Homo sapiens: one gene and its partner. The protein of the gene in region 1 purifies or fractionates together with the protein of each later gene. This does not show direct contact. Each region holds a gene or a part of one and is shown on either strand. Other genes may lie near its edges. The genes, in order: MYOF and EHD2.

Region 1 (3,811 bases):
GCTGAATATAAGGCAGGGTTTTTCTATTTGTCAGGTTTTGGAAATAAACTCTGTGTTTGTGTGTGTGTGTGTGAGGCACATACTTTCATATTTCAACGCGCATGGGTGATCACAGAGAATCGATACTGTACCACTTTCATGAAGAGAACAGAACTTGGAAAGTTGGGTGTCTTCTTAAGGTTTTTGATCACCACCGATTCCACCCTTTCTCCTCCACACTCCACAACAAGACTGGGGGATGTGATAGAAGCCATCTGGAAGTTTTTCATATTTCTTAAGCCCCAAGCTAGAATCTATGAAAACGATTTAAAGAGAGGGGAAGGTAACTCAGCACTTTAAAAATAATATTCAAAAGGAAAAATTCTGTCTTAATTACTGGCAAAGTCTTTAAGATTAATTTGAACATTATCCTAGTAAGCTTGTAGGTCATCCAAAGAAAGTGGTTTTGCCCCTTTCTTTCTCCTGCCTGAGCCCCTAAAAAAGCAATGCAGTTAAGAGTATAGGAATCAAATCCTGGCTGTGCCATCTAATAGCTGTGTCAATGCTGACAAGGTAACTCACCTCCCTATGTCTCATCTACAAACAAGACTGATCGTATTATCTGTCATAGGGTTATATTGATGACCACCTGTAAACTTTTTTTTTTTCTTTTTTGAGACAGAGTCTCACTCTGTCACCCAGGCTGGGGTACAGTGGCACGAACTAGGCTCACTGCAACCTCCACCCCCTGAGTTCAAGTGATTTTCATGTCTCAGCTTCCCAAGTAGCTGGGATTACAGGTGTGTGCCACCATGCCTAGCTAATTTTTGTATTTTTAGTAGAGGCAGGGTTCCACCATGTTGACCGGGTTGGCCTCGAACTCCTGACTTCAAGTGATCCACCTGCCTTGGCCTCCCAAAGTGCTGGAATTACAGGCGTGAGCTACTGCATCCAGCCCACCTGTAAACTTCTTAACACGGTGTCTGACATGGAAGCATTTCGAAGTGATAGCCTCAGCCTTTGAGAACTCTTAGCAGGACAGCCAGAGAAGGGAAATCTTGGGGTGTTAACAGCTGCTTGACTGGACGGGGAAAGTCTTGAGAGTGGGCCAGACACTGTCTATCAAGCCACCTTGTTGGGGTCATCAGCTTGTATCTGACATGTCAACATTGCTCACTGCTCCCATCCAACTTCCATCTCTGCCTCCCTGCCATGCCCCCATCTCTCAGCATATACACCGTCATTCTCTTCTCGTCCATCTTCCCTCTCCCAGGTCTCCAGTTGACCTGAAAAACTCAGAAACCTGCTGGCTCCCAGTAAATGAGGAGTTTAGATGCCCTCAGGAATGTTAGAATTGACCTGTCCTTGTTGCTTCAACAAGCCTTCTACTCCCATGAATACCTCCAGTTTTTGGACAAGTTGTAAAGGAAGTTGGAGATAGCAAGAAAATATGCAGCAGGATTCTATGTTCTATACAAAAGATTCCTGTCCTGCAGTCACATCCGTTTGATTTGATGAGTAACACGTGGGGAGCAGCATACCTCAATGGCAGTGAGCTGGACCACAGGCCTGATCCCCTGGGGGACCATGTATAGATTTGGCGCCCTTTGAGGGGGAAGAATGGGAAGGTTGGAGCCATCCTGTGAAACAAACATGGATATGTCAATGCCTCACTTTAGTTCAAGCAAACAGTGCCTAGAATTAACATGCATTTTAAGCAGCTGACAGAATACATGAGGAAGAACACAGCAATGTACCTTGCCCCTCAGAATCAGCTCTGCAGTTACAAGAACATCCCCGCAGGCTTTGTCTCCATTCATTACTGGGTGCCAGAGAAGTTTGGGTGTGATGTCCATTTCTGAGTTCAGTTTCACCACAGGAGAGAAAATGCTTCGTCCTAAAAATTCATCTTTGCCCTAGAGAAACAAAGTGATCCTTAAATTCCCCGACAATCATCCCTTCAAATCTCCATCATCCCCAAGTTATCTTAGAAATTCTAAACGACCTACCACTTGGTCATTGTCAAAAAGTTCCATGATAACTTTGGGTGGATTCTGTAGAACTGTTTGGGGTTCCCCATAGATTTCAACTTCATCGAATATAATTGTTTGGTCCCACGTGGGATTCAGGGTTGAATGGATGATCTCAGTGGTTTTGCTCCGATGGAGGAAACAGATATGAGCATATGGATCTAAAACAGAAAAAGAGAATAACAACGGGGCCACGGCTAAAATCTAACTCCCCAGAACCACTCAGTGCAACCATATTCTTTTCCTCTGGATATAATGACAGTGGGCTCTGACCACCTGCCTGGAGATAGGGTTTCTAGGGAGCAGGGAGTTCCCCATGGAAGGTTCTGGCACTGCAGCAGAGGCACCTGAAGCGAGACCCTGATGTGTACTGAGAGGTCACTCTTTAGAGTATGTCCCCACCAAGGTTAATGGGGCCCATAGTTTTTCTCTGCAAAAGTACTGCACTCATGGTTGAGTGAGGCTCTGCAGTCAGATACACCTGGGGTCAACACCCACACTTCACCCCTGCTGCATAACTTTGAGGGAAAAAATAATCTTCCTAAACGTTGATCCCCTCCTCCATGCAATGAAAGTAATATCTGCTTCACGGTGTTGAGAGGATGAAATGATATAAGGAATGTTAGCTATTTGGGACAGAGCCTGTCCTATAGGAAGTATCTGATAAATGCTAGTTTTTATTATAGTTGTTTCTAATGTTGATGGTAATCGATTTATTCAGCAAATATTTATTGAGTTCCAGGTCTCAAGAGTATAACAGCAGCCGGAAAAGCTCAGATGCTCATAGAGTTTACAATCTGTGACAGCAGAAAACTTTGTCTCACTATACTTAAGAATGGAGAGAAAGCAATATTATGTATGGAGAAATAATCCATGTTCTCCTCCTTGCTAAATAATTTCATCAAACTTTTTGCAGTTGCCTGGGGGCTGACTTATCTGAAAAATAACACAATATCTAGCCTGAAACTCTTGTATAAGCCAAAAGTGCTTGGTTTCTAGCAGTGGAGCCATCATATGAACCCTTTGCTTTTGCCCTGATGATAATTCTTCTATCTCAAACTGCAAGGAATGTGCTTAGAGTTTTATGAAGCTTTAGTCAAGAACTTTGGAAAGATGTTTTTTTAACTTTCAGTGATAGAGTGCCCCCTGGTGGAAAATATTTGAAAATGTCTTCAAAGACCCTGTTGGAGATGTATATTGCAGAGATAACCTTGAATCTGCTCAAATTTCTAAGAAAAGGAAACCATTCACAAATATTGGTAAATATTAGTGCTTGGAACACGCTTCAAAATTGATGTGAGCACATGAGAGTGTCAGTCAAATGCTTTAACAAACTTTCCGTTTGGAATAAAAAAGTGCAGCTCGCTGCCAGCACTCATTTCTCGGGGCAAATGGGAAATGGGTTAAGAGGTGTTTTCATAGAAGGCCCAGGGAAACTCTGCTGGGCTTTGAGTCCCAAACTGGAATTCTCCCCAGATAGCCTGAACTATCCATGGTTCAGCGGCAAGGACTCAAATCCCCAGACAGGCATGTTCTCCCCTCCTCCCCTGTCCCTTGCCAATAGCCTTCCTCTCAGAACCAGTCCGAAGCAACAAAAGCAGCTGGGTGTCAGTGCAAGAGAAGAAAAAGCCTCATGGTTTTATGGTATTGGGAATGTGGGGAGCAGGCAGAGGAGGAGGTTAAAATGAACTCCAAACTGCTCAAAGCCTGGTGCTGTAGGCAAATGGGCAAACTTATCATCTTTTTGATACCTTGAAAGAGCCTGCAAAAAAACTTAAAGGATCTTAACTTACCAATCAACC
Region 2 (4,562 bases), on another chromosome or scaffold:
AGGGCTGTGGAGAAAAATAGGGCAGTGATAAGAGGTAGAGAGTGGGTTCTACCTTAGCCAGGGTGATCCTGGAGGACTTCTCTGAGGAGGTGACATTTGAGCAGGGACCTGAAGGAGGGGAGAGAGTGAGGCATTCAGATCCCTATGGGGAAAGTACTCCATGGAGAGGAGTCAGCAAGTGCAAAGGCCATGAACTTGGAGGGTTGGGGGTGTGTCTGAGGAATGGTGAGGAGGCCACGGCGGTTGGAGCCGCCTGAGGAAGGGGGACAGGGGAGATGTAGGTGGATCATGCTAGGCTTTGTGGGCCTTGGTGTGGACTTCGGCTTTTACTCTGAGAGAGAGGAGAGCCAGGGAGGGTTGTCAGCTGAGAAGTTTCATCAACTCCCTTAAGTTTTAATATTAATATTATATTTACTTATTTATTTGCGATGGATTCTCACTCTGTCACCCAGGCTGGAGTGCAGTGGCGTGATCTTGGCTCACTGCAACCTCTGCCTCCTGGGTTCCAGTGATTCTGGAACTTGGGAGCCTCAGCCTCCCAAGTAGCTAGGACTACAGGTGCGTGCCTGCATCCAGCTAATTTTTGTTTATTTATTTATTTTTGAGATGGAGTCTTGCTCTGTCCCCAGGCTGGAGTGCAGTGGCGCAATCACTGCAAGCTCCACCTCCCCTGTGTTTAAGTGATTCTCCTGCCTCAGCTTCCCAAATAGCTGGGACTACAGGCGCCCGCCACCACGCCCAGCTAATTTTTTTGTATTTTTAGTAGAGATGGGTTTGCACCATGTTGGCCAGGCTGGTCTTGAACTCCTGACCTCAAGTGATCCACCCGCCTCGGCCTCCCAAAGTGCTGGGATTACAGGCGTGAGCCACCGCGCCCCGTCCTATTATTTTTTTTAGAGGTGAGGTCTCGCTCTGTCACCCAGGCTGGAGTGCAGTGGCACAATCATAGCTCACTGCAGCCTTGACCTCCTGGGTTCAAGCTATCCTCCCACCTCAGCTTTCCAAGTTGCTGGGATCACAGGTGTGCACCCCTGTGCCTGGCTAAATTATTTTATTATTTATTATTATTTTTAATAGACATGGGGTCTCGCTATATTGTCCAGGCTGGTCTTGGACTCCTGGCCTCAAGCAATCTTCCCACCCTGGCCTTCCAAAGTGTTAGGGTTACAGGCGTGAGCCAGGGCGCCCGACCTGTTATTGTTACTATTATTGCTGCTGCTGTTGTGATTCCCGTGTTAAGAAGAGAGACAGACTGGGGAGCAGCCCAACGCTGGAGGTGGAGGCGGAATTCGAACCCCAGGCTGGACGCTGGAGCTCTCGCCCGCCGTGCTAAGGCGTCTTCCCCACTCCCCACAAGGGGGCGCCAGAGGCCGGGCGCCCGGTTTTGAGGGGGGCGCCTCGTCCCGCCCCTCCCTCCTGTCCTCCCTCCCGTCCTCCCCGCTCCGGGCCCCACCCGGCTCAGACGGCTCCGGACGGGACCGCGAGCACAGGCCGCTCCGCGGGCGCTTCGGATCCTCGCGGGACCCCACCCTCTCCCAGCCTGCCCAGCCCGCTGCAGCCGCCAGCGCGCCCCGTCGGTGAGTGCTCCCAGCACCGCAGCTGTCGCCTCCCGACCCCCGCCCAAGCCTGCCCTGGTTCCTCATGCCTGACCCCTGCTCCCTGCCACCCTGTCCCCAGTCTGTAACGGTCTCCCCAGGTGTCCCCCAGTCTTCACCAGTCCCCCCAGTCTGTAACCATGTCCCCCACTCTTCCCACTCCTCCCACTCTTCCTCCCACTCTTCCTCCAGTCTTTCGCAGCCTCTCACACTCCCCCAGTCTCCTCCATCCTCCCCCAACACCCCTCCCTATCCCCTGGGCTAGAAGAGATCCTCTCTGCAGGGTCTCCCTCCACGCCCTCATCCATATCAGCTAACTTGGTCCCTCCAGCCACTCAAGAGCCCCTCTCCTGCCTCACCAGCTCCATCGGCCACCGCTGATAGCATTCTCCCCAGCTCTCTCTCAGGGCCCTCCCTGCCTGGGACACCGCCCAGAGCCCTCTCCCTCTGCCCACATCCCAGATCCTGCCTCTCTTTTCCATTCTTGCCACTCCTTTACGAACTCCTTTTGCTTTTATCTCCCCTACTCCCTGGCCACCCCTTTTAAGTCTCATGATTTTATGGATTTTAGCATATTTGATTTGCAGTTATTTTGATGCTCAAATTGCCCCATGTTTGGCCACTGGGCACCCCTGCAAGCTGGGTCCTCTGTCCCTGTAACATGCCCTATCGGCCTTTGAGCACTTCCTCACCTTCTGACCCAGGCTCACTTGTTCTTCCCTGCCCCCGCCCTGGAATCCACCATTTCTCTAAGGAGTCCCAGGTTCTTTTAGTGGGGAATGGTATTTAGAGACTCCCATCTCACCAAAAGTTGATTCTTTGAAAAGATCAGTAAAATCATAAGCATCAACGGGGAGCAATCGTTTTTGTTTTTCTTTTTTAAAAAAAGCAAATACCCACACCTGTGGCTGATATCGGGAATGAAAGAGGGGACATCACTACAGATCCTACGGTGAATAAAAGGCTAGTAAGGGAAGATAGAGAACACAGTCTGGGTGCTGGAGGTGCTCATTGCTCCTGGGTTGGTCATGGCTAACCTCCCTAACTCAGATCTTTAGACCTATAATAGGATTGCAACCTCTGAGGTCAGGCTGCCTGTGTTTGAGTCCCAGCTTGAGCATTTTCCAGCTAAGTGATCTTGGGTAATTTATTGCTGTCTTCCTGAGCCTCCTTTGCCTTGTTAAAAAAGCAGAGATGAGCCGGCATGGTGGCACACACCTGTAATCCCAACAATTTGGGAGGCTGAGGTGGGTGGATCACCTGAGCTCAGGAGTTCGAGACCACCCAGGGCAACATGGTGAAACCCATCTCTACTAAAAATACAAAAAAAAATTAACTGGGTGTGGTGGTGCATGCCTCTAGTCCCAACTACTTGGGAGGCTGAGGCAGGAGAATCCCTTGAGCCCCAGAGGTGAAGGCTGCAGTGAGCTGAGATTGTATCACTGCACTCCAGCTTGGGCTACAGAGTGAGACTCCATCTCCAAATAAATAAATAAATAAATAAATAAATAAATAAATAAATAAAAAGAAAGAAAAGCAAAGCAAAGCAGGGATGATAATAGACCTACTTTACAGGGTTATAAATGTTAAGTGAGTTAGTACAGTACCTGGCATGCAGTGATCATAAATGTTGCATTATTTTTCTTGTTAACACCCAACAGCCCTCATGACCTGGGTGCACCCAGGCAACCTTCTCAGCTCCATTTCTCACCCCTCCTCTTTGTGCCCCTGTGTCTGGCCACCTACCCAGATGTTTCATGGCTCCCAGTACACCAGGACCTTTCACATCCCCAGACCTTTGCACGCACCGTCCTCTCTGCCTAAATCCCCTTGTCTTGCCTGCTCTTCATGGAGCAGCTCAAAAGTCAACCCTGCCCTGAGTCTTACTGGTGCTGTGGTCTGTTTCTCATGCCCTCCTCTGGATGTCTGGCATGTGTCTGGGTCCTTACTGGGGGCCCTGGGTGGGTAGGGGATGATCTCTGGCTCATTTCTGGGTCCACAGTGCCTGAAGCATGGAGTGAGTGATTTCAGTGAAAAGGTGTCAAATGATGGAAGGGAGAAGGGAGGAAGAAATGAATGAAGCGATTAAGGAATCCGTTTCTTCCAGGCAGCTTCTGCATCCTTCGCCTTGTCCATCTCTTGGTCTTCCACTACCACCATCAATCCCCCTTCTTCAACCATGTCACCATTAATCTTTCTCCTCCTTCAGCTGGTTCGCTACGATCTCCCTATTTTTTTTGAAATGGAGTGTCGCTCTGTCAAGTGCAGTGGCGGGATCTCGGCTCACTGCAACCTCTGCCTCCTGGGTTCAAGTGATTCTCCTGTCTCAGCCTCCCAAGTAGCTGGGACTACAGGTGGCCACCACCAGGCCTGGCTAATTTTTTGTATGTTTAGTAGAGACAGGATTGCACCATATTGGTCAGGCTGGTCTCAAACTCCTGACCTCAGGTGGTCCACCTGCCTCAGCCTCCCGAAGTGCTGGGATTACAGGCATGAGCCACTGTGCCTGGCCTTTTTTTTTTTTTTTTTTTTTGAGATGGGGTCTTACTCTGTAGCCCAGGCTGGAGTGCAGCGGCATGATCATAGCTCACTGCAGCCTGCAGCCTTGAACTCCTGAGCTCAAGCAATCCTCCTGCCTCAGCCTCCCAAAGTGCTAGGACTACAGGCATGCACCACCATGCCCAGCTAATTATTTTTTTTGTAGAGATGGGGGTCTCACTATTTTACCCAGGCTGGTCTTCAACTACTGACCTCAAGCAATCCTCCTACCTCAGCCTCCCAAAATACTAGGATTACAGGTGTGAGCCATCGCGCCTGGCCCAATTCCATTCTTCCTCCTGCCACCTGCCATCCATGCTCTGTGACCACATATTTGTGACCACAAATATCTGTGCTCCTCCTCCTCCTCCACCCATCCTGTCACCCAGACAGTCTACACTCAGACCCCTTTCTTCCTCCTTGGCTGGG

The links.
Region 2: the proteins of MYOF (region 1) and EHD2 purify together in Homo sapiens (affinity purification with western blotting, with the first as the bait; one study listed by BioGRID). This does not show direct contact.

Annotation. Positions count from the first base shown.
Region 1 is NC_000010.11:93,349,677-93,353,487, forward strand, and holds part of MYOF (myoferlin), read right to left. Parts: intron 2,171-3,811; coding exon 1,989-2,170; intron 1,896-1,988; coding exon 1,737-1,895; intron 1,620-1,736; coding exon 1,521-1,619; intron 294-1,520; coding exon 132-293; intron 1-131. UniProt on the Homo sapiens protein: Calcium/phospholipid-binding protein that plays a role in the plasmalemma repair mechanism of endothelial cells that permits rapid resealing of membranes disrupted by mechanical stress. Involved in endocytic recycling.
Region 2 is NC_000019.10:47,711,962-47,716,523, forward strand, and holds the start of EHD2 (EH domain-containing protein 2), read left to right. Parts: upstream 1-1,460; 5' UTR 1,461-1,577; intron 1,578-4,562. UniProt on the Homo sapiens protein: ATP- and membrane-binding protein that controls membrane reorganization/tubulation upon ATP hydrolysis. Plays a role in membrane trafficking between the plasma membrane and endosomes. Important for the internalization of GLUT4.